Linked DNA regions of Homo sapiens. The protein of the gene in region 1 purifies or fractionates together with the protein of each later gene. This does not show direct contact. Each region holds a gene or a part of one and is shown in the gene's direction. Other genes may lie near its edges. The genes, in order: SLC27A2, IPO5, MIGA2 and KIF14.

Region 1 (7,719 bases):
TTTTCACATGAACTCTACATGGAAGTGTAAAACAAGTATATGAGCTGTTTTGATTGGAGCTAGGGTAGGATCCTCCCAGAGCCCCTTTCCCACTCTATGCAATGAACTCTCCTCAGTAACTTCTCAGCCACTAGGGCTCTACCGAGTAGTTTGGAAGCCAATGGACTAAATCAGTAGTTCTCAAAGTATAGTCCCTGGACTAGCAGTGTCAGCAATACCTGGTAACTTCTTAGAGATGTGAATTCTTTGAATCAGAAATTTTGGAGATGGGGCTTAATAAACTATATTTTAGCATGTTCCCCAGGTGATTCTCAGACTTGTAAAGTTTGAGAAATAGTGAACTACTTCATCTCCATAAAGTAGGAAGGGACGCCACCTGCTTTAAAAGAACATTTGAGATTGGGATTGGAAACTTTGAAGGGGGTAGGGAAGGTCTGGGACTGCCAATAGGAAGCCTTCTCTCAAATAGCAGAGATAGATGATAGGGATGAACGTCCTGACCAAGGCTAGAAGGTGTCAGTATGCACACCCAGTAATCCTGTCTTGCCCCTAAACTTCTCCTGCAATACCTAGAATAGGACAGAAGACAGTGGGCATTTGAGGTCATCTATACCTGGATAGAAAGTTTAAGGAAAAGAGGGGTCTAGGAGGCCACGTTGAAGTGACTGGCCAGGAAGGGACCGAAATCTTGATAGAGGAAATGAATAGGCTCAGTAATGTCAGAGAATGGGAGAAGTGGAATGAGGAGGCTTAACTAAGCCTATGGGGACGGAGAATCTCCATGTCTGAGATCTCAGTGCTGACAAAATCCTAAATTACATCAAAGTCCAAGATCTGGCTCTATTTCATATTTCCCTGTGGAATTTATGTTACTGAATAGACAAACTTGTATAAAAACAATTTCTATATGGTATAAAAACCCAGACAAAAGTTGCAGTTTTCTACATTCAAAAATATTTTTAATGTTTTTATTTTTATCTGTTTGTGAGAATTTGTAAGATTATTTTGTTTTGTTTTTCATATGAGATGGGGTCTCACTGTGTTGCCCAGTCCAGTCTTGAACTCCTGGCCTCAAGTGATCCTCCTGCCTCAGTCTCCCGAGTAGCTGGAATTACAGGTGCATGCCCCCACACTTGGATAATTTCTGTACTTTTTATGTGTTGGTGTAACATTGTCTTCGTCTTTTCTTGGAAAGGGCTATATGTTTATTGTTACTGTCTTTAAAATTGTGGTAAAATATGCATAACATAAAAATTAACTATTTTAACCATTTTTAAGTGTACAGTTCAGGTATACTTTTTTAGTGCCAAAAATGTCATTCTTCTATAAAATAACAAATATACTGTGATGGGGGAGGGGGTTGTTCTTACTAGAAAAATTAAGAAGTCGTTACTTATTTTGAGTCCCTAACTTGGTTTCGAAATATAACACGGGACTAAGAAATTCAGGAATCAAACAACTACTGCCCTAAAGGAGAGTTGAGATTTACAGGGTTAGGATGGTCAGGGGTGGAAAGTGGTAAGAACAAGCCAGTAGAAAGAGGAAGGTGCAGGGCATTTTTAGGAGTGTGCAGACCAGACTTGCTAAAAACAAAGTGCGCTTGAAAAGGAACAGTTAGAATTAAGTTTTGGTCCATTTTAAAATATTTAATACCTAATAATGTTTGGTTCATAGCAGAAACTCAATAAATATTTGTCAATTGAGTGTAGTGAAAGCTTGAGTGAGATTCAGAAGAGCCAGAAAATAAAGTTTAAATTTCATTTTATAGACCAGAGGTTCCCAAGAGATGTACCAAGAATGGGCAGCCAACGTGCTAAGCTATCGATCACCTTTCAAAGGAGTCAGGCAGAAGCCAGGGCATCTGGTCAACTCTAGGCCAGGTATGTTCTAGTATGCTGTACAAGTACAACTGTCTATAGATGTCATTGGTGGAAGACAATAGGAAGCAATGGGGAACCACTAAAGATAATTGAGCAGTGGAGATATAAGATGGCAGCAATATTTCCAGGAAGACTATTGCTGTGGTTTTAATGTTCATGTCCCCTACAAAATTCATATATTGAAATCCTAACCCTCAATGTGATGGTATTAGGAGGTAGAGCCTTTGGGGAGTAATTTGATCATAGGGCAGAGCCCTCATGAATGGGATTAGTGCCCTCATAAAACAGGCCCCAGAGAGGTAATTTGTCCCTTCTACCAAACAGTACACAGTGAGAAGGCACCATCTGTGAGAAAGTAGCCCTTCACCAAACACCACATCTGCTGGCACCTTGATCTTAGACTTGCCTCCAGAAGTCTGAGAAATAAATTTCTGTTGTTTATAAACTACCCAGCTTACAGTATTTTGTTATAGCAGCCCAAACAGACTAAGACATCTATTAACCTCGTGATAAAGCAAGAGCTGGATCCCAGGCTCAAAGCTGGAATCACTGGGACTCCCAAGGTATATATTATAGACATTTGAAAATTACTTCCCCAAATTTACTCTCCCTAACCCCACTTTTTAATAATACCGTAAAACGTTCCACAAAATGGCCTAGGTGAAATTGATTATACTCTCACCCCCATGGGTGAGCGCTGATTGGCTTAAAACAACTAGCACCTTTTTCCCCAGGACCCACAGACATTGGTTCAGAAATGGGCGCATAATCCAGTCAGGGATTTTTTTTTTTATGAGAACTCCTAAGAAAAAGATTCCTGTACTTCTCTCTGAAGTTGAGCCAGAAAGCATGTACCCCTAAGGGCTGTTGGCAGCCATCTTTGGACAAAAACCAGAGAGCCTGAATGAGAACAGAGGAGGTGCAGAGGAGAAATAGTGAAAGCAAAACTAGATCCAGGTGTCAGCATTTAAAATCCTTGATGTCTTAGCCCCGGACTCTCCAGTTACTACTTAAATTCCTGTTTCTGCTTCAGCTAGCTTGGGTCTTGTTTTCTTTTACTTGTAACTGAGGTTAAAGTGATCCTCAGAATAAGAGGGGAAAAAGTGGACCCTTGTGGTAATCTAGCACTCTGGGTAGACAGTAGCTGTTCAAGGAAAAGAGAAGAGGGGTGCAGGTGGCTACACAGAAGCGATTAGCCATCAAGGGACGAGGGTGGCATTGGGATGAAAAAGGAAGGGCTGGCTCTGAGCTTCACCATGAAAGAAGTGCACATGAGAATGGTTTCTGTCGGGCCCTCACTTTGGTTAATTCTACTGCTTTCTCCTCAGGGATGATGAAGGCCCCCAGCTCATCCCCAGGGAAATGATGCAACCAGGTAGCTGGATCAGAAATGAAAAAGTCAGGAAAAGGGAAAGGTTGCTTGCGCAGTTACTAGGGATACGAAAAGGAGGCTAAAAAACGGCAGGGGGTGGCCTGGAGGGAATGTGAAACATTTTTGTGTGTTTTACACACACCGAAAAAAAAAGAGGACATGGACAGAAACCTAGAGAATAGGAGGACAGCATAGTATAGTTACTAAGAATAAGCTAAGAGTTGGTTCCCCGGGACCAAACAGATACCATTTCCAAAACCCACGAATTACTTACCGGCTGTCTCAATTCACCTAAGCTTCCCTTTCTTGTCTGTAAATGAGCATGAAAGTGCCACCTGTATAAAATAACTCAGGCTCCCAAAATGTAACATAGGGAAGCTCCTAGCAGCGTGTCTGGGAGGAATAAGCATTATCTGTATTTATCGTATCAAATTAAGATAGAGGAACACAGGAGGACAGTAGAGGATGAAAATAAAACACTACTTAGATCCTGACCCTCCTCAGTGGCAAGTAGTGAGCATTCACTTCGTACAGAAGTAGCACTAAGGCAAATTAAAAGAAAGGTTCACATTTCCTCTAAAAGAAATGGTTTTTGAGTCATGCCAATACCACTTACTCAATGTCCTCTGTACTATACTATTCTCTGACAGAGCCACTTATTAAATGTGTGAACTGTGCTGACAACACTTGACAACTTTCAACATGAGGGAACAGCAGGATCACTTAACAGAACAAAATCGTAAAATAATGTCAAAGCTTGATTTCAGGTGGTGCGGTGTAGCACTGCTCTTCACGAAATCAGGACTCCCCCGACCAGGCAGGGCCGACTAGGTTAGAGTGTCCTGCCCTCACTCACCTGGCAGGGCTTGGGATGAGCTGGACGTGACTGCCACAGGCATTTCTGTTCAACCTTGAAGCCTTCGCTACAGGAGACCGCCTGGCAGTCGGGCTGGGAAGCAAATCTGAGAAACAAAGAGAGACCAGGCGGAAAGCCCTTGGGACCAGGAAGGAGAGATGAGATTCTGGTTTGGCAGTGGCACCTGGTACCCGCTATTAATAAATAATAGGACTGTCTGACATTTATAAGGCACTTTATCGGTAATAACAGTGTCATCTCCATAAGCCATTCTATTAGTGGTAACAAATAATAGCCCCACGCCTGCAATATCTCCTTTAATATTCCCAACGTCCGCTAAGCGCGTCTCATCACCATTTAAAGAAACCGTGGCTCCTAGAGGTAAAGTACTTCGGTCACAACGCGAGGAGGTCCAGACTTGACCCCAGACCTCCAGACTCGAGCTGGGAAGTGGCCGAGGCTCCTGGTGAGCCGCAGGGCAGCCTGCCCAGCCCCGGGAGGACCGCGTGGGAGGGCCGGGAGAGCAGGTGGCTGCCCCCCACAAGGGGGCGGGCTCAGCCGGCCAGTCCTGCCCGGAACCCCCGGCAACGCGCATACGACTACACCTGCTCCGGAGCCCGCGGCGGTACCTGCAGCGGAGGAGCTCTGTCTTCCCCTTCATCTCACGCGAGCCCGGCGTCCCGCCGCGTGCGCCCCGGCGCAGCCCGCCAGTCCGCCCGGAGCCCGCCCAGTCGCCGCGCTGCACGCCCGGGGTGAACCCTCTGCCCTCGCTGGGACAGAGGGCCCCGCAGCCGTCATGCTTTCCGCCATCTACACAGTCCTGGCGGGACTGCTGTTCCTGCCGCTCCTGGTGAACCTCTGCTGCCCATACTTCTTCCAGGACATAGGCTACTTCTTGAAGGTGGCCGCCGTGGGCCGGAGGGTGCGCAGCTACGGGAAGCGGCGGCCGGCGCGCACCATCCTGCGGGCGTTCCTGGAGAAAGCGCGCCAGACGCCACACAAGCCTTTTCTGCTCTTCCGCGACGAGACTCTCACCTACGCGCAGGTGGACCGGCGCAGCAATCAAGTGGCCCGGGCGCTGCACGACCACCTCGGCCTGCGCCAGGGAGACTGCGTGGCGCTCCTTATGGGTAACGAGCCGGCCTACGTGTGGCTGTGGCTGGGGCTGGTGAAGCTGGGCTGTGCCATGGCGTGCCTCAATTACAACATCCGCGCGAAGTCCCTGCTGCACTGCTTCCAGTGCTGCGGGGCGAAGGTGCTGCTGGTGTCGCCAGGTGAGCCCCGAGGATCGCCCTGCCCTGGCACCAGGGCTTCTCGGCGCCTTGACTGACGAGCCACAGCGTGGCATAAGGGGTTCGCAGAGGGAGGTTCAGATCGGAACTGTAGGTATAGAAAAAGGTTGGCAGTGTTTCCTTGAATCGCAAATAATGATCTTTTAGGACCACCTGTTGTGGAAGCTGATAATGTGCTAGGTTCTGTGTTAAGCACTCTACAGGCAGTGTGGTTTTTAATCCTCACAATGGGTAGGCTTTGTTATAGGACTTTTATAGATGAGACCACTGAGGTCCTGAGAGGTGAAGCCTCATGCCCAGCCATCTATCTCCAAATTCCAAGCTCTTAATCAATACTTATAACATCTGCATTAAAATGCAGAGGATCTTGAGTGCGAACTCTAGTGGATCCAGAGGGGCTCTTCTCACCTCTGCTGCTTGACTGGCTGTGTGATCATGGGAAAGTCACTTCTCCTCTCTGTCCCTTGGTTTGCTCCTCTCTAATGAGGCAGGCTTCAATGTTGCTTCCAGCTCTCAACTGCTGTTAGCATCCTGTCCCCTCCCTGCAGAACAAAGGTGACCCCACCTGATCCCCAGGGAGAAGATACTGGGGATCTGCTACAGGACCGTTGTGAGCCCCCACTGCATCTATCACAATAGTGACCCTTTCAGTTCTGTGGTTAGCTCCTGCCACATTTCAGCCAGACTTGAAACAGTAACTTAAGTGATGACAAGGTCAGGAAGTGACAGAGAACCTGTTACTCACAGGGCTGATGGCTTTCCCCTCCCAGAGAGCTTGTCTCTGCACTTGAATAAGGACCAAGGGTTCCTTCTCTCAGTCAGTAAGAAGAGGCCTACACAGGAGTGGGCTGAAAGACCTGGGTGACAGGGTAGGGGTCGAGGGAGCCGAGGAGCCTCAGCTTTCTAGAATGCATTTCTGTGCTAAGCCCTATAGTAGATGCTTTTATTACCCCGGGAGATAACATATCACTATCCCCACCACCACCACCACCATTATACAGTTGAGAAAACTGAGGCTTAAAATTCCAACCTAGCTCTATCCAACTTCGAAGCCATGCTCTTTCCTACATCTTTTTTTTTTTTTTTTTTGACAGTCTCGTTCTGTTGCCCAGGCTGGAGTGCAGTGGCGCTATTTCAGTTCACTGTAACCTCTGCCTCCCAGGCTCAAGCGATCCTCCCAGCTCAGCCTCTCAAGTAGCTGGGACCACAGGCATGCACCACCATGCCCAGCTAATTTTTTGTTATTTTTGGTAGAAACAGGGTTTCACCATGTTGCCCAGGCTGGTCTCAAACTCCTGAGATCAAGCGATCCACCCACCTTGGCCTCGCAAAGTGCTGGGATTACAGGTGTGAGCCACCACACCCAGCCTCTTTCCTACATCTTATTGTTTTCCTCTGCATGGATGTAAACTGTTAAGTGTGCTGGAAGGGATGAAGTGTCCACTTGCTCTACCCCTTCATTTCATAGCTGGGGAAACTGAGGCAAGCTAAGCGGGTTACAGAAAGATGAAAGGTTAATTCACTTGTGAGAAACCAGGAATCTTACACACCTGCTTCATGTGGCATGAAATAAATAATCCAAAAAATATAGGCTTTGTATAAAAGTTTAAAAGCAGAAAGCCAAATTTTAGGCTGGGCGCAGTGGCTCAAGCCTGTAATCCCAGCACTTTGGGAGGCCGAGGCAGGTGGATCACTTGAGGTTAGGAGTTCAAGACTAGCCTGGCCAACATAGCAAAAACCCCGTCTCGACTAAAAAAAAAAAAATTAGCTGGGCATGGTGGCGCGTGCCTGTAATCCCAACTACCTGGGAGGCTGAGGCAGGAGAATCACCTGAACCCAGGAGGCAGAGGTTTCAGTGAGCCGAGATCATGCCACTGCACTCCAGCCTGGGGGACAGAGTGAGACTCCATCTCAAAAAACAGAATAAAAAAAAGACAAGTTTAAAGGTGGCTAAATTATTTGGAAGAGATGGTCCTTTCAAGAAAATTCCCATTAATTTCTAGCTGCCTGAGAAAAGCGATAACTTCACTACTTTGTAACTAGAAGACTCTCCTAAGCCTATTACTTTACCAGCTTGCTTGGAGGGAAATTATTAACACAGTGATCTTTGTACCACTTCAGGAAGCATTTAAATTCTGTTTATCACTTTAGTATCCCAGGTCCCCTGAGAGGGAGGTCACAGGGTTTGGAGTTTTGTTGACAAAGAAGTTCAGGATTAAATGACCATAATACAGTTTGATTCTGCAATAAAGTCAGAATTACAACCAGATACCCTCTTCCCACCCAGCTAACAGTTGTCTGCCATAGAGCTATGTGTTT
Region 2 (7,313 bases), on another chromosome or scaffold:
CAGCAAATAGTTAGTAAGCATTTGTTACTAGCTGGGTCAGAGAACACCAGATCTTTGGTGCAGAGAAAAAGGTCATCTCATCTGTTTCAGCAAGACAGATGCAAGAGAAGGCAGCAGGGTTCCTTCGTGCGATCTTCTGGGGAGAGGGGGTTAGAAGATAAAGGAAGGGGCCAAAGAGGGAATTTTCTTTATGACGTAGTAAGACAGCACAAAATATAATCATAAGTAGAGGAAATCAGTGAAGAAAAAAATGAGGATGAAGTGTAGGCATTAAAGTTGATGAACACAAAAATTTTGATTCCGTATCTGTACTCAAGAATTAGCTGTGCTTTGAGATGAGACTAACATGAGTTAGAGGTGTTGTGTTAATAGAAGAGAGAAAAAAAAAATCTCACATAAATAGTTCAACATAGATTCTTTTTATAGAAATTTCCTCCAAAACCTACAGTCTCTGCTTCTGGAGAGGTGGTCTCATTCTGCTGTTTCAGAAAAGCATTCAAGAACTTGAAGGGAGTAGTAATTGTAAATTTAAATACTTCTTCCAGTTTTCCTTTGAGGTAATAATTTGTGTCTTCCTTCTAGCTGATTCAGAAAGGCACCAAGTTAGTTTTGGAACAAGTTGTGACATCCATTGCATCAGTTGCCGATACTGCAGAAGAAAAATTTGTCCCCTACTATGATTTATTTATGCCATCACTGAAGCACATCGTTGAGAATGCGGTTCAAAAAGAACTGAGACTTCTGAGAGGAAAAACTATTGAATGCATTAGCCTCATTGGTCTGGCTGTTGGGAAGGAAAAAGTAAGTAATTTTTTTTTTTTTTTTTTTTTTTTTTTTTTTTTTTTGAGACAGAGTCTCGCTCTGTCACCCAGGCTGGAGTGCAGTGGCACGATCTCGGCTCACTGCAAACTCTGCCTCCCAGGTTCATGCCATTCTCCTGCCTCAGCCTCCCGAGTAGCTGGGACTACAGACGCCCGCCACCACGCCCGGCTAATTTTTTGTATTTTTAGTAGAGACAAGGTTTCACTGTGTTAGCCAGGATGGTCTCAATCTCCTGACCTCGTGATCCGCCCGCCTCGGCCTCCCAGAGTGCTGGGATTACAGGCGTGAGCCACTGTGCCCGGCCTGTAATTTCTATTATGTTAAATTTACTGTACCTAACTTGGCTGTGGAGGCATTGAGAGTACTAGAGGGATTTTTTCCTTCTGAAAAATGGTTTTCTGGATGCTTGTTTTTTTCCTTACTCCTTTCACATTGCTCCTGTTTTATATACAAATTCTTGCCTTCATCTTTTCATTGTTTGTTTGTTTGGTTTGGTGTTTTTTTTTTTTTTTTTGAGACCAAGTCTCACTCTATCACCCAGGCTGGAGTGCAGTGGCATGATCCTGGCTCACTGCAACCTCTGCCTCCTGGGTTCAAGCGATTCTCCTGCGTCAGCCTCCCAGGTAGCTGAGATTACAGGCACCTGCCACCACTCCCAGCTGATTTTTGTATTTTTTTTTTTTAGTAGAGATGGGGTTTCACTGTGTTGGCCAGGCTAGCCCTGATCTCCTGACCTCAAGCAGTCTGCTCACAGGTGTGAGCCACCGCGCCCAGCCCGTCTTTTCATTGTTAATATTAAGGTTTCTTTTTAGCTCAGCTGTGCTCCTGATGCCTCCTCCTTTCCCCACCACACACAGTGCATCTCGTGGGAGGTGTGTGGAAGTCAGTATCCATGTTCGTTCCCTTTAAATATGTGCTTGGAAACATGTCACTTGCTTTCCTATTAATCTAAAATGCATCAAGTGTTCTAAGAGAGAAATCTATGCATATAGATCTTCAGAAAATAATTACCAAGGACCATTGGCCAGTGTGTTTCTCAGCCAACATCTCAGAATTGTTCAAGCTAATGCAAAAGAAGTTTCTCTGTCATTGAATCCTCATGTTCTGACCCTGAGAATTATCAACAGAGAAGCTCTGTCTTGCCTTCTTCAAAACCAGCATCAGTATTAATTTATATTTGGAACTGGTTTCTGTGAGACGCTGACCACTAAAACATTGGTATGTTTTTTACCAATAAAATATTTGTATGTCCCATACTCTATATATCTGGCTTTCAATGTCTCTTTAAAACGCTGCCTGTTTATACAATGGAGATTACCAGAACTGCAAAGAGTTAAGTGAAAATCATAGACAAAATTTTATGCAGTGAATTCTATAAACAATCTAAAATTTTCTTTCTGAATTTGAATTCAGTTTTACTGCTTGAAATGCGTAAGCCATAGACTAACACCTGATGCCATTAGAAGTACCTTTATACTGTAGTTCCCTGCCCTTCAGTGGAAAATATATTTTTCTAGAAAGTGAACTAAATCTGTCACAATATAGATGAGAATTTTTCAATATGATAGTTTATCTATGAAAGTTATGACCTATGTGGGCAATGTAGTCGATTTTTTGGCAAAGCTTTGCTAATTACACAAGAAACAAAATTCGGTATCAACAAGTGTGTCTCTACATATTTTCCTCTAGTTCATGCAGGATGCATCAGATGTGATGCAGCTTTTGTTAAAGACCCAGACAGACTTCAATGATATGGAAGATGATGATCCTCAGGTAAGTGGTCTTAATGCATTTGCTTTGATCCGCTAATGAGTTGTGGACAGCACATGGTTCAATATATTTAAAACAAAAGGAGTGATAGGTTTCTTGACATACTATCAACCCCTGCTAGCAGAGACATTCTTCACTGATTTTCCTTCTGTTTCTCAAGCTACTTTTTCTCAGTCTGTTGTAGGTTGCTCTTGCTTTCTGTGACTCTCACTCAAGTTTTGGTGTTTGTGGGTTCTATCCAAGGCTCTCTTCTCACTCCTGTGGAGCAGTGTCACTCACAGACATGGCTTCCGGTTTCCTCTGTGTGCTTGCAACTTTCAGATCTTCAGAATTGAAGATTCATTTATCCAACATGTAATAGACATCTCCATTTGGGTGTCTCCTAGCCCTTTGAAGGCTGCATGATCTCCCTCCCCTGGCAGAAAATACAGAACCCAAGAATCTCAGGACACACTGCTTGCCTCTCCGCCAACGAACAGACAAAGGCATTTCATTAGGAGGAACCCCTGCCTCTCGACACACACGCACATACACACATAGGTATACATACCCAGCTAACGCTTGCTCACAGTTCTCATCCTTTACAAGATTTTCCTGATCTGCTCAGTCTCAATGGTGGGCAGTTCCAACACTGTTATAGTAACATCATAAATGTTTGTCATATCTTGATGGTATTCCCAATGCCTAACATATAACAAGGCACTCAATAAATAATTGTTGAATTAAATTTTGACTTTACATTGCCACACTGTAATAGTTTAAATAGGAAAACATACCATTTTGCAAAGAAAGCATGTTTTGTTGTTGTTTGCTTTCTTTGCAAAATGATATGCAAATATACATGTATGTTTTGTATGTACAGAGATAACAGGCAGGAGGGATACTTAGCAGACTGCTGACAGTAGGGAGACTGAGGGGACTGTAAGCTGTAGGGAGGGGTGGTAAGGACGAGGCGTGTTGCTCACCTTTGTATCAGCCAGCATATAGTTTAATGCCTGGCATGTGAGAAACACCCAGTACCTATCTGAAGAGCGGGTGGACTTTTACATATAAAATCATTAAGAGGTGGGGCATGTGTCCATGCATGCTCAATAGATAAATAGGTAGGTGGATGACAGATATCAGGGGATAAGAATCACTTTCTAGGTTGCAGGGGTGGTGAATGGAACCAGATTCTCTAGGTAATTTGCAGATGATAAAGTCTGTGTAAACACAGTAATAGGAGAAGAGGTGTTTTAAATATACTCAGCCACTTATGAGAAAATTATAACAGCTAAGAGAAAAGGATGTTTTGTTTCTTGGGTTTTAATAAATGTTTAATGAATGGAGTGGCAGGCAATAGGGATACAGAGTCAGATAAAATACATTTCTGTCTTCAAAAAATTTGTAACTGGGAGTTGATGAAGTGTTTGGTTTTGTTTAGGTGATTAGTTTCATTTAGATGATTCAGATGCTAAGAAAGAAAACCATTATCACTTACTGAAAGTAGAAAGAAATACCCAAGGTTCTGGTCTTTGTGTTTTGCCTCACCTGCTGTCCATATCCCAGTGTAGTGAGTTCACAGGGATTTCATTATTGATTCTGAACCTTTTAAGTACATAACCTTTAGAAATGCTCTTACTGCTTAAAGTACTGTGAACATATCAATAAAACATTGTTTCTATGAAATAAGGAAATGGCTTTCTTTATCACGTTTACCCATTGTTTTTTAATCTATTTTAATTTTAAAATTTTTCCCCAGATCTCTTACATGATCTCAGCATGGGCCAGAATGTGCAAAATCCTTGGAAAAGAATTTCAGCAATACCTTCCAGTGGTTATGGGGCCTTTAATGAAGACGGCTTCAATTAAGCCCGAAGTAGCCCTTTTAGATAGTAGGTGTCTTTAGAAGGAGCTATCGGTTATAATAGTTCTCTCTTTGTTATTATTTTTCATATGCATTTGTTTTCTTCTCCGTTAATAGCCCAAGACATGGAGAATATGAGTGATGATGATGGTTGGGAATTTGTGAACCTTGGAGATCAGCAAAGCTTTGGTATTAAAACTGCAGGACTAGAAGAAAAATCAACTGCTTGCCAGATGTTGGTAAGAGAGCACTGTTTTTACTAAACTTTTATTTTACATCTTATATACATTTCATATGAGTGCTTTTAATAGCTGCTAAAGAAATTACTTTGGAGAGCCAGTAATATGTTCCTTAAAAAGTAAAGTTTTCTTTCCATTTTAAAGAAATCGTATGGATAAACCTTTCATTATCAGTGCTGTTTTAAATAGCAAAAAACAACAAATAGCCCAAATTCCTGTTAGTGGGAAGATGAATTACTGTGCCTTGGAGTAATATACAGCCATTACAAAAAGTTTATAAGCTACATGAGGGAAGGATTTTTGTTGGTTTTGTTCTTAGTCTATAGTAGGTGGCCATGGAATGTTTTTTAAACAAATGAACAGAAGTGTGTTCATGCTATTTAATGTGAAACAAAACTTGTATGATTTCAATTGTGTAAAAAAACAGATATGGCAGGAAAATCAAAATGTTCGGTTATTATCCCTTATGGTGTTTGTGGTGTGCATATGCATGTTTAGTTCCTAGTTTTCTTTTTGTTTTCTTTATGAGCATGCGTTTTAAAGTGAAGGATAATCCTTTTTTTTTTTTTTTTTTGAGGTGGAGTCTCTCTTTTTCACCCAGGCTGGAGTGCAGTGGCACGATCTCGACTCACTGCAACCTCCACCTCTGGCGTTCAGTTGATTCTCCTGCCTCAGCCTCCCGAGTAGCTGGGATTACAGGCGCCTGCCACCACAGCTGGCTACTTTTTGTATTTTTAGTAGAGATGAGGTTTCACCATTTTGGCCAGGCTGGTTTCCAACTCCTGACCTCAGGTGATCCGCCTGCCATGACCTGGGATTACAGGCATGAGCCACTGCACCTGGCCAATACTTACTTTTAAAGTTAGATTTTAGAAATTAATGTATTTCTTATTGTCATCTTCAATACTTAGTATCTATAAATTATAAACACTTTGGATTTTTGTGGGTTTTTTCTCTCAACTGGAAAGCAAATACAAATAATAACATCTTTAAACAGAATTAATCTTTAGATGTAGTAGAAGAGAATGAAACAATTGGGTTTTTGGGGTTTTTTTTGTTTGTTTGTTTGTTTGTTTTGCTTTTTGAAACAGAGTCTTACTCTGTCGCTCAGGCTGGAGTACAGTGGCTTGATCTCAGCTCACTGCAGCCTCCGTCTCCTGGGTTCAAGTGATTCTCCTGCCTTAACCTCCCGAGTAGCTAGGATTACAGGTGCACGCCACCATGCCTGGCTAATTTTTTGTATCTTTAGTAGAGACGGGTTTTCACCATGTTGGCCAGGCTGGTCTTGAACTCCTGACCTCGTGATCCGTCTAACTCTGTCAGCCAGGCTGGAGTATAGTGGTGCCATCCCGGCTCACTGCCACCTCCACCTCCTGGGTTCAAGCGATTCTCCTGCCTCAGCCTCCCAAGTACCTGGCATTACAGGTGCCCGCCACCATGCCTGGCTAATTTTTGTATTTTTAGTAGAGACGGGGTTTCACTGTGTTGGCCAGGCTGGTCTCGAACTCCTGACCTCGTGATCTACCAGCCTCAGCCTCCCAAAGTGCTGGGATTACAAGCATGAGCCACCGTGCCCAGCCATGATTTTTTAAAAATACAAAATAACAGAAGCGTTTTCTACAGATTTACAAAGTAAATGCTTCAATTAACTGATGGTTTCAGGGTTTTTTGTATCTTTTAGAATGATTTTTCCTCAATTAAGTGATACATTTTGTTTGATGTATTGCTGAAACTTGCTGAATGGAATACGAATGATTCCAGCCTTTGAAGGGACAATATATACGACAATAATTTCCTTTTTTTTTTTCTTTTTGTCACTCACCAATACTACAATCATTTCATGACCCTTCTTTTAAGACTCTTTTTAGTTGGAAGACTAATTTGACAGTTCTACATGCAACTTTAAATGTAGTTCTAGTCAAAATACAACCTCCTGTGGTCCTTATGATTTTGCTGTTTGTTAATATTAATGCTTGAAGACTAACATGAATCTTTATTTCCTCCCAATACTTTGGTTACAGGTTTGCTATGCTAAGGAGTTAAAGGAAGGCTTTGTGGAGTACACCGAACAGGTTGTCAAACTGATGGTCCCTTTACTGAAATTTTATTTCCACGATGATATCCTACAACTTCTGAATACAAAACATGTCTAGATTTAGTAAACTTGTAGTTTCTTGGAGTATTAGACAGTGTTGACTGAAGTAGACTTCACCATGATTGTTTGTATTTGCACTAAGTGTACTCTTAGGTGATAAACTCGGTTCTCTGCATGTGCCTTTGTTTCCACTTGTGCCAAAACATGAAAAAGAAAACGTGACCTATCCTATGTTTGTCAGCTTTCTGTGGCCCACTTAAGGATTTAAGGATAATTAGCAAATGATTACAATTATATATAGTTGCTACTTTCCCCAAATATCTTTTGGTAAACGTTAAGAAAATAAGACTTTTATTTTAAGAGATGGTGTCTCACTCTGTCACCTAGGCTGGAGTGCAGTGGCGTGATCAGGACGCACTGAAACCACAACTTCCCAAGTAGCTGGGACCCAGGTGCACAACACCAAGCCCAGCTAGATTTGATTTTTTTTTTTTTTTTTTTTTTTTTTAAGAGATAAGGTCTGCCTATGTTGCCCAGGCTG
Region 3 (7,288 bases), on another chromosome or scaffold:
CACTCCAGCCTGGGCGACAGAGCAAGACTCTGTCTCAAAATAAATAAATAAATAAAAATAAAATAAAATAAAATAAAATTCTCCTCCTTTGCTATCCTTCAAGTGTCCAGGTGACCTCATTCTTCTTGGACACTAGACGAGAGCTCAGGACCCACCAAGTGCGGGTACCCGAAAAAGGTCGTCATACTGGCCCTCTGCCCTCACTGGCAGAGAGCAGCCACCCCACGTGGCAAAGCAAGGAGCCTACCGAGCTGATAACACACTGCTGTCCATGGACAGCAGAGCTAAGAGAGCACTGTAACATGTCCTCTGGGGCTTCAGGGTTTGCAGGCACCCCGACCTGGGCACCGCCATGGGGCCTGCATGGAGCCTCCTTCTGCCCACGCCCAGAGCAGCCAGCGGGATCCTGCACTTGCTCGCCCACATGCTCCCTCCCACAAGGGTTGAGCATGGCGGGCTGGCCTAGACAGGGCACCCCCATCGCAAGTCCAACAAAGAAGTCAAGAAAAATCCTGCATCGCCTCCAGGAAGGAGGAGAACTTGTGGTAGGAGCTTTATGCTGAATAGGTTGACTAAACATACATATTCAACAGGTTGCAGGAGGTGCTATGAATATTCATCAAGGTGGTCCCATGTTCACTTTGTGGTGAATTAATATTTAGATGTATTACAATTAGGCCCTATATGTCAAGAGGATTGTTTAGGGACATGAAGGCACACAACGGCCAATCTCTGCAAAATGGCCAGAACTGGTCCATGGCCAGTGGTCTAATTCTTTTTTTTTTTTTTTTTTTTTAAGACAGGGTCTCGCTCTGCCACCCAGCTGGAGTGCAGTGTTACAATCACGGCTCACTGCAGCCTCAACCTCCTGGGCTCAAGCGATTGATCATCCCGCCTCAGCCTCCCAAGGAACTGGGACCGCAAGTTATAGAGACGGCGTTTTGCTGTGTATTGACCAGCCTGATCTCCAACTCCTGGATTCCAGTGATCTTCCTGCCTCAGACTCCCAAAGTGTTGGGGTTATAACCATTAGCTACCGCACCCAGCTGTTGGTCTTATCAGAAGAGTAACTGAAATTAGTCTTTTGTCCAATGAAAGCTATAGTTAGGCTAGTAGAACAGGAGTTCAGTTAGTCAGCGTCCGGGAGCTGAAGGAGCTGCAGTTGTTTGAGTGTTGCTTATCTTGAGGCCAATGCTTGTTTGTATTTATTTATTTATTTATTTATTTATTTATTTAATACATCCTTCATTGGAAGCCAGTGCTTATTTGGCTGCTAGAGAAAAACAAAACAAAACACCTTTTGCCAGTTAGAGGACAGTTATTTTATTTTATTATATTTATTTTTTTGAGATGAAGTCTCACTCTGTCACCAGGCTGGAGTGCAGTGGCACGATCTCGGCTCACTGCAACCTCCGCCTCCCGGGTTCAAGCGATTCTCCTGCCTCAGCCTTCTGCGTAGCTGGGATTACAGGCACCTGCCGCCATGCCCAGCTAATTTTTTGTATTTTTAGTAGAGACAGGGTTTCTCCATGTTGGTCAGGCTGGTCTCCGACTCCCAACCTCAGGTGATCCGCCCGCCTTAGCCTCCTAAAGTGCTGGGATTACAGGCATGAGCCACCGTGCCTGGCCCTTGGCCCCCCCCCCACCCTTTTTTTTTTTTTTGAGACGGAGTTTCACTCTTGTTGTCCAGGCTGGTGTGCAATGGCATGACGATCTTGGCTCACTGCAACCTCCACCTCCTGAGTTCAAGCGATTCTCCTGCCTCAGCCTCCCAAGTATTTGGGGGCAGGTACCACCACCCCCGGCTAATTTTATATTCCAAAGTTACCACAGTACTTACAGCACCCTCAGCCTGGGTGTCTAAGCTTATCATCCCATGCGCCTCCTCCCCTGTGCCAGACAACCCCACTAATGACTCTGGCCTGTGCACTCATTCCGCCTGGACCCCAACAACATCCCCGACTCCCTTTAGCCACTCTGCCCAGTCTCCTATTCACCCCATGCCAGACCTCTCACCAGTCCCACCATGCCGGGCACTGGGCATCCGCTGTTTGGACCACCCTCCCCTCCCGTCCCCTCCCTTGCCTTCCCCTTCCCTCCCCTCCCCACGGAGTCTCGGAATGCAGTGGCGCCATCTCGGCTCACTGCAACCTCCGCCTCCCGGGTTCAAGAGATGATTCTCCTGCCTCAGCCTCCTGAGTAGCTGGGATTACAGGCGCATGCCACCACCCCTGGCTAATTTCATCATGTTGGTCTGGCTGGTCTCGAACTCCTGACCTGGTGATCTGCCCGCCTCGGCCTCTCAAAGTGCTGGGATTACAGGCGTGAGCCACCACATCCGGCCTTGGACCCCTTTTCTTTCTGGAGCCCTTCACCTCCCCAGGCAAGCCCAGGTATCTCCTTGGTATCCCACATTCCCCCATTAGAGTAACCATCACAGGGGATTGTGATTAAGTATCTGCTCCCCAGACAATGAGCTCCCTGGTGCCACCACATACCTGTCTCTTGTCCACCACTGAGCTCCCATGTCCAGCCAAAGGATTGGCACACTTAATTAGTTGAATGAATGAAGGAATGTGGCTTTACCGACAATTGTAATTTTCCTTTTTTTTTTTTTTTGAAATGGAGTCTTGCTCTGTCACCCAGGTTGGAGTGCAGTGGCGCAATCTCGGCTCACTGCAACCTCCACCTCCCAGTTTCAAGCGATTCTGCTGCCTCAGCCTCCTGAATAGCTGGGACTACAGGCACACGCCACAATGCTGGGCTAATTTTTATATTTTTAGTAAAGATGGGGTTTCACCATGTTGGGCAGGATTGTCTCGATCTCCTGACCTCATGATCCACCTGCCTTGGCCTCTCAAAGTGCTGGGATTACAGGCGTGAGCCACTGCTCCCGGGCTTTTTTTTTTTTTTTTTTTTTGAGATGGAGTCTGGCTCTGTTGCCCAGGCTGGAGTGCAGTGGCGTGATCTTGGTTAACTGCAATCTCCTCCTCCCGGCTCAAGCAATTCTCCTGCCTCAGCCTCCCAAGTAGCTGGGATTATAGGTGTGTGCCACCACGCCCAGCTAGCTTTTTTATTTTTAGTAGAGACCGGTTTTCACCATTTTGGCCAGGCTGGTCTCGAACTCCTGACCTCATGTGATCCACTCACCTCAGCCTCCCAAAGTGCTGGGAATAGAGGCATGAGCCACTGCTACCGGCCGACGATTACAATTTTAAAACGTAGTTGTGCCCAGCTCTTCGCAGTTATGGAAGGGCTGATACACCGTCCTCTTTCCATCCTCACCAAAGCCCTATGATTTGGGAAAGGGAAGATTTTATCCCTATTTCTTTTTTTCTTTTTGAGACGGAGTCTCGCCCTTTGGCCCAGGTTGGAGTGCAATGGGTGGATCTCAGCTCACTGCAACCTCTGCCTCCCGGGTTCAAGAGATTCTCCTGCCTCAGCCTCCTGAGTAGCTGGGATTACAGGTGTGTGCTACCAAGCTTGGCTAATTTTTTTTTTTAATCTTTAGTGGAGACAGGGTTTCACCAGGTTGGCCAGGCTGGTCTCGAACTCCTGACCTCGTGATCCACCCACCTCGGCCTCCCAAACTGCTAGGATTACAGGCGTGAGCCACCGCGCCCGGCCTCATCCCTATTTCATAGAGGGGTAAGCTCTAGAGAGCTGAAGTGGCAACACTTGATTCTATCTCAGGTCGGCCTGATCTCAATCCTGGTATTTAGTGTAAGACCCAGATAGGTGGCCAGAACTGAAGACCCCTTGACTCCAGCTCTCAGAGAGACACTGTCTAGCGGCGAGACCTGGCACTTTTGCAAACAACTCCAGAACAAGGGGGAGAGTGGCGACAGTATAAGAGCATGCTGCGGGAAGTCAGGGGCGGTAGTATTTGAAAATGGGCGCTTGGAGAGTGGGAAGGATTTGTCCTTGTGTGGAACAAGAATAGAGGATCCTAATACGAGGGCTCAGCCTGCTTTGGCGTACTCCAAGAAAGCCCCTTGGAGGTCTGACTGCTCCGCTTCAGCCCCTTTAAGAATGGCCCCGCCCCACCCAGCCGCCCATGTCGATCTAATCTGAATGACCAATAGTAGAAGAGAAGAGACCACTTTCGCGCTTCAACCGCACTAGGAGGAGGGGAAGAGGGCGGGAGAGGCGGAATATAAGCTTGGTCACATGACCCGCCTAATTGGCCAGAGGCTGCGGCGGCCCTGAGAGACTCAGCGATGCTCATTGGCCAGAAGAGGGTGGGGGCTTGGCGCTAGGCCACGCCCCCGGGCGGCCGGTTTGGTTGCGCAGCCGCCGGGGAAGGAGACGCTGCCCTTCCGCAGCGATGGCATCCCGGGTGAGTATCGGCCCCGGCCGAGCCCCCAAGGCGGGCGGGCAGCGCGGCAGGGCCGGGACTTGAGCGGAGGACCGAGTAGGCGCAGGTGTCCGGGCCCAACAGGACCAGGAAGGTGTCGGGGTTGGAATGAGTGGGTACCCGGGCCGGGGACGGTGCGAGAGGGTGCCTTGCTTGGGAGCGGAACGAGAAGGTACTTGGGTCAGGGAGGTGATGCCCGGGCCTGGAACGTGGCGGGGATTGGAGCAGGCGCGCAGGTACCCGATCCGAGGCGGGGAGAGCACCCGGGATGGAAGGAGCAGGCGTGCGGGCCGTGAGCGGCGCCAGAGGGTACCTGGGTGAGTTTCAATGATATTCCGGGGTGGGGGCAAGAGAAGAAGGGGCTGCCCAAGATGCCTGGGGTGGAGTGAGCAATTTCTGAAGACGGGGATATTGCTGAGGTCCAACGCGGGGATGCCCGGTGCCCGGCATGGTGGGACTATTGAGGGGTCCGGCATGGGGTGAATAGGAGACTGGGCAGAGTGGCTCAAGGGAGTCGGGGACGTTGTTGGGGTCCAGACGGAATGAGTGAGTGCACAGGCCAGAGTCATTAGTGGGGTGGTCTAGCGCAGGGGAGGAGGCGCGTAGGATGATATGCTTAGGCACCCAGGCTGAGGGTGCTGTAAGTGCTGTGGTGACGGTGGAATGAGGAGGTGTCCGCCTAAGATTGTAGGGCACAAGAGATGGCTGCCCAAGTGGGGCCAGGCCCTACACAGCAGTAGAAGTGTCCATTTGGTAGGGGACCTTGCCGTGGGCTTTTCATTGTGGAGAGGAGGTGGAGGGGTCTCAGCTTAGGCCCTGGAGGACGGACAGGGTGCCAGGGGGACGGACACAGTGTGGGTTGACTGGATTTGGATCCATCCCTGGAGTGAAGCAGGCTTGGGGGCTGGTGATGTTACCTCGCACCTGCAGGCTCTGCCTCCCAGTGGGGACAGCAGGGGCTGCTCTGGACTCTCCCGCAAACAGTGGGCCTCAGTCACCCCTGTAGCGTTTATTTGTTCAGGCTCATCTTTAACACCATGTGGGCTTCTCACTTGGGGGCCCAGAAGTCCTACAGTTGTGGCCTGGAAGGAGCAGTGGCAGTTGTAGCAGGCAGAAGCTGGGAAACCCTGCCACAGCCTTGAGATCCCCCAGAGCTTGGCCGCTTAGTACTCGGTGACCTCAGGCAGGCTGCCTCATCTCAGAGCCTCCGCGTTTCCCCATCCTTGAGATAAACATTGGCCATTGCGAGGGTTCTGAGAGGACTGGACCCAAAGCCTGTCGTGGAGAGCCTGTTCTGGATCTGGCCTGGAATAAGAGCTTGGGAAATAGTAGCTGCTGGCCCTCTGATGTTCTTGTCTTCCCTCTTTCTGAGACCTGAGCCAGCCTGGGGTTGGGGTGAAGGGTAGGGGGACGTGGCTTACAGTATTAACCTAGGTCCTGACCACTGCAGCTCACGTAGCTCAATTCACAGCCTCCTGGGCAGATGTCTCTACCCCTGACAACCTGGAAGCTTCCTTAGCCTGCCCTGCCCTCTCACACACCCCCACCAGCCCTAGAGCGAGACTGACAGGCTCCTCAGTCCTTCCCACTCACTGGGGAGAAGCTGTTTCTTCTGCTGGCCCAGTGACTTTGGCGGCCATCCCAGGGAGACAGGGTCTGTCCTGGCTTGTGTGTTCCTTCCGCTTGAGGTCCCGGGAGACCTTGAAGGCATCCTTGGGCTTGGAGCTGGAAGTGGGGGAGGACCCTGCCGGGTCTTGGGGTCCAGGCTAGGTGTGATCAAGCCACTTATTTCCTGGCCTTGGGAAGGGGCAATGGGGTACCCTGGCAGGGAGGGGAGTATCTCCCAAGGTCCAGGGGAAAGCTGCCCAGTACTCTGTGGTCTGCTGGGGCTTGCTACTTCCTGCTGCATGTCAAATTTAGCAAAAGCATTGTACTGAGCACAAAGTCTGACTCTACCAAGTACCAGCTGTGTGACTTTGGACTCCTGACTTAGCTTGTCTGAGATTCAGTTTCCTCATTGGAAACCAGAGGTGAGGCTGGGGGGAAGGTGGGTGGCATCAACTTCACATAATCCTTTTTTTTTGTTTGTCTTTTTTTTTTTTTTTTTTTTTTTTGTGGCAGAGTCTCGCTCTGTCACCCAGACTGAAGTGCAGTGGCGCGATCTAGGCTCACTGCAACCTCTGCCTCCTGGATTCAGGCGATTCTCCTGCCTCAGCCTCCCAAGTAGCTGGGATTACAGGCACGTGCCACCACACTGGCTAATTTTTGTATTTTTAGTAGAGACGGGGTTTCACCATGTTGACCAGGCCAGTCTGGAAGTCCTGACTTCAGGTGATCCGCCCGCCTCAGCCTTCCAAAGTGCTGGGATTACAGGCATGAGCCACCCCAGCCAACCTCACAAAATTCTAATGATTCAGTGAGATGATGGATGTAAAGAATGCAGCACAAAATACGTAGCGTGGAGTAGCTCTTTGTTTGTGTGTGTGTGTGTGTGTGTGTGTGTGTGTGTGTGTGTGTGTGTTTTATTTTATTTTATTTTTTTGTTTTTTATTTATTTATTTTTTGAGATGGAGTCTCACTCTATTGCCCAGGCTGGAGTGCAGTGGCGCGATCTTGGCTCCCTGCAAGCTCCGCCTCCTGGGTTCATGCCATTCTCCTGCCTCAGCCTTCCGCGTAGCTGTGATTACAGGTGCCCGCTACAACGCCCGGCTAATTTTTTGTATTTTTAGTAGAGATGGGGTTTCACTGTGTTAGCCAGGATGATCTTGATCTCCTGACCTTGTGATCCTCCCTCCTCGGCCTCCCAAAGTGCTGGGATTATAGGCGTAAGCCACTGTGCCCAGCTTCTTTATTTTATTATTATTATTATTATTTTTTGAGACAGAGTTTTGCTCTGTAGCCCAGGCTGGAGTGCAGTGTTGTGATCTCAGC
Region 4 (7,313 bases), on another chromosome or scaffold:
ATCATAGAAGTATTGGGAAGGAAATTGCAAAAACTTCAAATAAATTTGGGAGCTTAGAAAAAAGAACACCTACAAAATGTACAACAGAACACAAACTGACAACAAAGTGCAGCCTGCCTCAGCTTAAGAGCCCAGCTCCATCAATACTGAAGAATAGAATGTCTAACCTTCAAGTTAAACAAAGACCAAAAAGTTCCTTTCTTGCAAATAAACAGGAAAGATCCGCAGAAAATACAATTCTTCCCGAAGAAGAAACTGTAGTTCAGAACACCTCTGCAGGAAAAGACCCCTTAAAAGTAGAGAATAGTCAAGTGACAGTGGCAGTACGCGTAAGACCTTTCACCAAGAGGTATGTGATGCCTTTTAAAATCTAAAGCCAAGCAGTTACATGTAAGGTACCTTTAATTCCTCTCTGCCTTTGGAAGGTCAGTGTATTCGTGCATCTTCAAACTTGTTGGCAATACTTTTATATAGAAAGAACTTTTAGGTCTAGTTGTAGTGTGTGTTGATAATTTTTGATCACTGACTATAAAATTAAAAAATTGAATCACCATATTTTGTATATTGAAGTTTCTCTAGATATATTGCTTTTAAAAAGTCTGAATAAGTCACTTAGGTCTCTAATGAAATCTGCTTTCAGATCTGCAATATATGCTGGAATGTTATACCTATCCCTTAAAAAGAGCCATAACAGGCCAGGTGTGGTGGGTCACGCCTGTAATCCCATTGCTTTGGGAGGTCAAGGCAGGCAGATCACTTGAGGCCAGGGGTTTGAGACCAGCCTGGCCAATATGGTGATACCCTGTCTCTACTAAAAATACAAAAATTAGCTGGGCATGGTGTTGCACACCTGTAATCCCAGCTACTCGGGAGGCTGAGGCAGGAGAATCACTTGAACCCGGGAGGCAGAGGCTGCATTGAGCTGACATCAGGCCACTGCACTCCAGCCTGGGCGACAGAACGAGACTGTCTCAAAAAAAAGAAGAGCCATAACAAATTACTGGTTCCCTAAAGAGGTCCTTTCAAAACCCTTTCCAGAGTGGTGATTATCATCATCATTGTCTCCGATTACTATATAGTAGTTATAAATGCAGTGATACATTAGATTTGATTTTGATGGCAAAAAATCTCTCTCTAAAAGTGGTTGTGGGTGGGGAAGACACAGATTAAAGATAAGGTTGGAAAAGATGGACATGACAAAATGTGAATGTGACAAAATGTAATTGTTTTAAAATATTTTAATGTAGTTGTTTAAAATATTTTAAGGGACAGTGAAAAACTTCACAGAGTTAGTAGTGTTTAACTTGAAGCTGTGTATCTAAGCAAGTTAGAAGAGGATTTGGTGACCACTGCATCAGGGCAGGAACCTCCAGTTTGAACCTAAGGGGTCAGTAGTTAAAGGCAAGTTATACAGTACTGTAGAATCTTTTTCGTGCAAATGGGTTAGTATTAAGAGGGAGAACTGAGGGTGAGTTGGTTTGAGAGAATTGGAATGTCTAATAGAGCCTCAAGAACCATGATAGGAAGAGAAACAATAGAAAGAGCTGGTAGGGACAAAATGCAAGATGGATGACTATACTGAACTTAGTAAGGGACCAAGTGCCTGATTCCAAACTCATCAGACAAGCCTTGAAAGCAGGGCCAGGGTAGAGTACTTGTCAAATTGATGAGGCAGGTGTTTTTTCCAGAATAAATTCTGATTTAAAGCAGTCTCAGAGTCAGGGATGGAGCGGGGAGGGAGTGTATATCTGGAGCCAGACAAAGAGTGATGATGTTTTTCTGTAGATCTAAAGTAAATGAAAGATTTCCACCTAAGTCTCAAAGGGAAAAAGGATATACAGAAAGATTCATGATTTTAAGGGAGAGAATCTAGAGGAAGGAGGAGAGATCTTTAGTAGCCAAGAGAGACTTATGATTGAAACTTACAGTCAACTGAGTTTGTTAAAATTAGATATTTGTATTTTATGCCAGCTTTATTTAGATTGGTACCCCCCCAAATTTGTATAATAAAGATGTAGATTTGGATGAAGAGTATAGGTAGATTATAGTAGGTGGGATGGGAAAAGGTATAGTTCAAGAGAAAAAAAAAAGAGGAAAAAATCTTGTAAAAGTAGGATAGGTTTTCTGGAGGAATCTGGGATTTTCCCTTTGGTGGCACTGGAGCCTCAGGAAATATATTTTGGAAACCCACTAGAATTATGTTTGCTTATCTGCATTTTCCACATAAAACTACAGAATTATCTTGCCTTGGAAGATTGTTTAAATAGTTTTGAGGTATTTATTATGTTCTGTGAGAATAATACCCTTGATCATTTTAGTTACTTGATTTTTTTCTTTGTGCTTCTTTCAAGAGAGAAGATTGAAAAAGCATCCCAGGTAGTCTTCATGAGTGGGAAAGAAATAACTGTGGAACACCCTGACACGAAACAAGTTTATAATTTTATTTATGATGTTTCATTCTGGTCTTTTGATGAATGTCATCCTCACTACGCTAGCCAGACAACTGTCTATGAGAAGCTAGCAGCACCACTCCTAGAAAGAGCCTTCGAAGGCTTCAATACCTGTCTTTTTGCTTATGGTCAGACTGGCTCTGGAAAATCATATACGTAAGTTGTATTGGAAATGCAATTATCCAGAAGTGTTTAAATATACTTTTGTGAGAAGTGGCATAGGGGTGATAGAAAGAATATAGTTTTGAAATCACACAGATCTTGGCCCAAATCTCATCCATTTTATATACCAGTTCTGCAAACTTGGGCAATTTACTTAGCCTCTGGGCTTCAGTTTATACATTTACCTTGATACAATTCATCTTGTAATTATCATTGGCCCCATTTTACTGTACTTTATATATTTTACATAAACTAAGGCCTAGAGAGGTTATCTTTTAAGTATTTTGGTGAGAATTAAAAGTAAGGCATCTAAGCTAGATGTGATGGCACACACCTGTAGTCTCAGCTACTTGGGAAGCTGAGGTAGGAGGATTGCTTAAGTGCAGGAGTTCGAGTCCAGCCTGGGCAACTTAGTCCCCATCTCTTAAGAAAAAAGGGTGGAGGGGCATCTGATAAATGGTAGCTATGATAATAATACCTGTCCTAGAAAGAAATACTCAGCATTTTAACAGTAGCTAACATTTGAGTTCTTTTTTTTTTTTTTTTTTTTTTTTTTTTGTAGCAAGGTTTGTTGTGAAGAGCGAAAGAACAGAGCTTCCACAGTCCACAGCGTGGAGGGGTCCCAAGCGGGTTGCCCAACATTTGAGTTCTTACTATATTCCAGACACTGTGCTAAAGACTTTGCTTATATTCTTTCACAACAATTCTCTGAATTAGATAGTTGTATTATTCCTGTTTTACAGTAGAGGAAATTGAAGTTTAGTGAGGTTAAATATCTTGGAGTCAAGATTTGGACTCAGGCAGATTTGACTCCAGAGTCCAGATTCTTAATTATGAGATTCAGTGAACTTGCTTCCTACTCCCTTCCCAGCCTATTTCCCCAAAAAGAATTTTAAAGAAAGAATTAGTTTTATTTCCCCCTTATTCATAATGTATTTTTCAGGATGATGGGATTTAGTGAAGAACCAGGAATAATTCCAAGATTTTGTGAAGATCTTTTTTCTCAAGTAGCCAGAAAACAAACCCAAGAGGTATGTTCTTATAATACCTGCAAGCTTCTTTTCAGAGTAGAAAATAGTCAAATCAAGTTCAAATCAGTCATGGCCACTAAGGAAATACTTAATGGAAGATCAGTTCTAATTTGTAGATCACTCTTCTTTGGAACAGTGGTATGGAGAGGGAGGGTGGAAATTCTAAATTCAGAATCAGTTTCACCTAGTGGGCAGTGATAGTGAAGTCATCTCTTCTGTCTTTTCTCCCTTGTTTTTGCTTTACTTTTGTGTATACGTAGAGGCTCACAAACATGGTAGCTATGTGCTGTTATACGTGTGTTTGTAGTCAGATAGGTGTACAGTTTAACTAAGGACAGCAGGCATAACCTTTTGGACAACGTGAATCAGAAAGAGTAGTGAAATTGGGATTTGAACCCAGAGTTGACTTCAAAAGCCATGCTTTTTCCACTCTACTACACCTGAATAGGCTGTACTGGCTTCCTATTTCACTTATTCATTTACACATTCAGCTACCTTTTACTGAGCATTCTGCTGTTGCCAGGCAGCTTGTTAGATCAGTTTTTTTTTTTCTCAAATTTTCTTGGTCATAAGAATCACCGGGGATTCTTGGCAGGGACATATATGTGCATGTGTATGTGTATGTACACACTTGCTAAAAATCTCTTCTGGGGGTTCTGAGTCAGTTGGTCTGGTGTAGAGCTTGGGATTTTATAATTTTCATGCTTTTCCTCCAGTATTTTTTATGATAAAGGAAATTGGGAAAATTGTGCTAGATTAGGGGTGTGGAGTTAAAAGACCCAGTCCCTGTATTCAAAGGAGTGTAGTGGGAGAAATAAGTTAACAGCCAAGTACAATCAATTAAATGCTAAACAAACTAAAGTAGATGCTCTAATAGAACATGTAAGTGAGGACATATAAAGTTGGAGGGAGACATTCTCTCAGAGGAAGGAGCAGCTGAGCTTATTTTTGAAGGATACATAGCATTATTAGCTTGGTAAAGAAGGGGAGAAGGATATTCCAGGGAGAGGGAGCAGCATGTACCAAGATTTGAAAGCAAAAAAGTAGGGAGCCTTTGGGAATCTATAAATTGTTCACTGTGTTTTGAGCATGGAATTTGAGGGTGGAAAGTGATAAGAGAAGAAACTAGAGGCTGGGTGCGGTGGCTCATGCCTGTAATCCCAGTACTTTGGGAGGCCGAAGCGGGCAGATCACCTGAGGTCAGGAGTTCGAGACCAGCCTGGCCAACATGGTGAAATCCTGTCTCTACTAAAAATACAAAAATTAGCCAGGTGTGGTGGCACATGCCTGTAATCCCATCTACTTGGGAGGCTGAGGCAGGAGAATCGCTTGAACCAGGGAGATGGAGGTTGCAGTGAGCCGAGATCGCGCCACTGCACTCCAGCCTGGGTGACAGAGCATGACTCCATCTCAAAAAAAAAAAAAAAAAAAAAAAAGAGAATAAACTAGAAAGGCCTGCAGAACTTGGCTCATGAAGGACTGTCTTAGTAAGGATAACTGGTAAGACTTGCTGATTATTGGAAATGGAGGATGAGGGAGAGAGAAATCAATGTTTCTGGTTGGACAACCAGATTAGATATCGATGTCATTTTTTGAGATCACAAGAGGAAAAGTAGATTTGAGTAATTGATGAGTTCTGTCTCTTCTGTGGATATACTGCCTCTCCTCTGTCTTCTTCTACCCTCAACCTCTCATTCCCAGTAATTAAATTGAAAATAGGAGGAGTATGGGGATCAATAGAAATATGGTGGTATTGAGACTATGAGATGAAATATGATTCAAGTCCAAGTTTAGTGGGCATAAGAGAAAGCTGTGGGCTTGTGGGGCAGAGTTCTCTATTGGCTCTCCAGATTTTAGAGGGATAGTAATTTGAAGGTAAAGCCAGGAAGACATAGATAAGTGTAGTGGAGGCAAAGGTCTTTGGAATGATTTCAAAGGACTAGGAGGCTCAGATTTTGCGTGGAATGACTATGTCATTGAATAACATAGTGTAATGAATGCTTAAGAGCCTGGTTGGCCAGGCATGGTGGCTCACGCCTGTAATCCCAGCACTTTGGGAGGCCAAGGCAGGCGGATCACCTGAGGTCAGGAGTTTGAGACCAGCCTGGCCAACATGGTGAATCCCTGTCTCTACTAAGAATACAAAAATTAGCCAGGTGTGGTGGTGGGCGCCTGTAATCCTAGCTATTCGGGAGGCTGAGGTAGGAGAATCGCTTGAACCCTGGAGGCGGACATTGCACTGAGCTGAGATCATGCCACTGTACTCCAGCCTGGGCGACAGAGCAAGACTCTGTCTCAAAAAAAAGAAAAAAAAAAAGAGCATGGACTTTGGAGATACATTATTTGAATTTGAATCTCAGCTTCATCACTGCAGTAGAAATGTGATCTTGAACAATTTACTTAATGTCTTTCTGTGTTTCAGAACAGAAAATAGAGATTATATTGACAATGTCTTTCTCATAGGTTTGTTGTGAGCATTAAATGAGTTGATCTATACAAAAGGTTTTGAAGAGTGCCTGGCACATAGTGAGCCCAACTAAATGTGGTTATATCAACTTTGGAATTAGCCAGGATGGTAGAGAATAATAGTATGTGGATGGGGGTAATAGAAGGTGGTATAGCGAGCATGATGGCAGGAGCCTCAGAGGAGAAGAAAAAAGTAGGACCTCTCCAGTGTGGCCCCAGCTACCTTTTCCAATTTGTTTCCCACACTACATTTTCATTTCTAAGTCCTCCTGGAGCCTCTATAACATAAAATACTATTTTACATAAAATAAGCATTATTACGTGTTTATTGAATTCTGACAGCCCCCATCCCTGTTCATAGCATTTGTCAATGACCTTATAATTACTTGGTGTTCCCTTATACCTGGTCTCTTTGGAAGTGTTTTGTTTCTCTCTCATGACACCAGCTATATTCTGCCTTGTATTACTCATGTACTGTATTGCATCTCCAATTAGCTTCTGAGTTTTTTCAGGATAAAAACTATGTCCAGTTCATCTCATATTTTCCCACAGCTCCTAGAAGAGTGCTTTGTACCTAGTAGGGCACAATAAATATTTGGTGAATTGAACTTAAATCTCTTTGACACTCCCTTGAAGCTTCCAATTCTGTTAGATGCTTGCTGACTCACTTCTGGGTCAGTGGATGAAATTTATTTCTCTAATAAGGAAACCATGCCCTAACTGTCAGAAGAGCTGTTTGGAAGCAAAGTTTCCCGTTTTTGGCCTCTACACTGTATCTTTCAGAGTCAAAAGGAGGAGAAGCTCAGCCCACTTAATCTAATGATTGCTTTCTCTCCCAATCAGGAAGAATTGTTGATTTAAGGTTCCATCTTACCAGATCAAATGTCAACCTACAGGGTGTCTTTCCTATTCTGAGCACATGTGATGCACAGATGCTGCTGTCCTTGCCCGAGAATGCCCTACCCCCTCTTTCTGGTTCAATCTACTCTGTCTCTCATGCCTCACATTCTATTTACTCCTTCCCTTTTCTCTGGCCATCCTAAATTTTCCCTTTTCTGATTAGTCATATTTATAGTCATCTCATTTTGATTCTTAATTAATTTTCTATTGCTGTGTTTTATCTATTGGAAGGTATGTTATATGTCTCTGAGATCTTAGCCTCATGAGCAAGAATCTTGTCTTATACTTCTTTATGTCCTGACAA

The links.
Region 2: the proteins of SLC27A2 (region 1) and IPO5 purify together in Homo sapiens (affinity purification with mass spectrometry; 2 studies listed by BioGRID and IntAct, with this or other methods). This does not show direct contact.
Region 3: the proteins of SLC27A2 (region 1) and MIGA2 purify together in Homo sapiens (affinity purification with mass spectrometry; 2 studies listed by BioGRID and IntAct, with this or other methods). This does not show direct contact.
Region 4: the proteins of SLC27A2 (region 1) and KIF14 purify together in Homo sapiens (affinity purification with mass spectrometry; 2 studies listed by BioGRID and IntAct, with this or other methods). This does not show direct contact.

The regions. Positions count from the first base shown.
Region 1 is NC_000015.10:50,177,524-50,185,242, forward strand, and holds the start of SLC27A2 (long-chain fatty acid transport protein 2), read left to right. Parts: upstream 1-4,672; 5' UTR 4,673-4,904; coding exon 4,905-5,382; intron 5,383-7,719. UniProt on the Homo sapiens protein: Mediates the import of long-chain fatty acids (LCFA) into the cell by facilitating their transport across cell membranes, playing an important role in hepatic fatty acid uptake.
Region 2 is NC_000013.11:98,005,548-98,012,860, forward strand, and holds part of IPO5 (importin-5), read left to right. Parts: intron 1-582; coding exon 583-801; intron 802-2,511; coding exon 2,512-2,595; intron 2,596-4,333; coding exon 4,334-4,466; intron 4,467-4,555; coding exon 4,556-4,677; intron 4,678-6,698; coding exon 6,699-6,795; intron 6,796-7,313. UniProt on the Homo sapiens protein: Functions in nuclear protein import as nuclear transport receptor. Serves as receptor for nuclear localization signals (NLS) in cargo substrates.
Region 3 is NC_000009.12:129,032,343-129,039,630, forward strand, and holds the start of MIGA2 (mitoguardin 2), read left to right. Parts: upstream 1-4,283; 5' UTR 4,284-4,339; intron 4,340-4,591; exon of another isoform or gene 4,592-4,625; coding exon of another isoform or gene 4,626-4,674; intron 4,675-7,288. UniProt on the Homo sapiens protein: Regulator of mitochondrial fusion: acts by forming homo- and heterodimers at the mitochondrial outer membrane and facilitating the formation of PLD6/MitoPLD dimers. May act by regulating phospholipid metabolism via PLD6/MitoPLD.
Region 4 is NC_000001.11:200,610,648-200,617,960, reverse strand, and holds part of KIF14 (kinesin-like protein KIF14), read left to right. Parts: coding exon 1-349; intron 350-2,351; coding exon 2,352-2,606; intron 2,607-3,555; coding exon 3,556-3,643; intron 3,644-7,313. UniProt on the Homo sapiens protein: Microtubule motor protein that binds to microtubules with high affinity through each tubulin heterodimer and has an ATPase activity. Plays a role in many processes like cell division, cytokinesis and also in cell proliferation and apoptosis.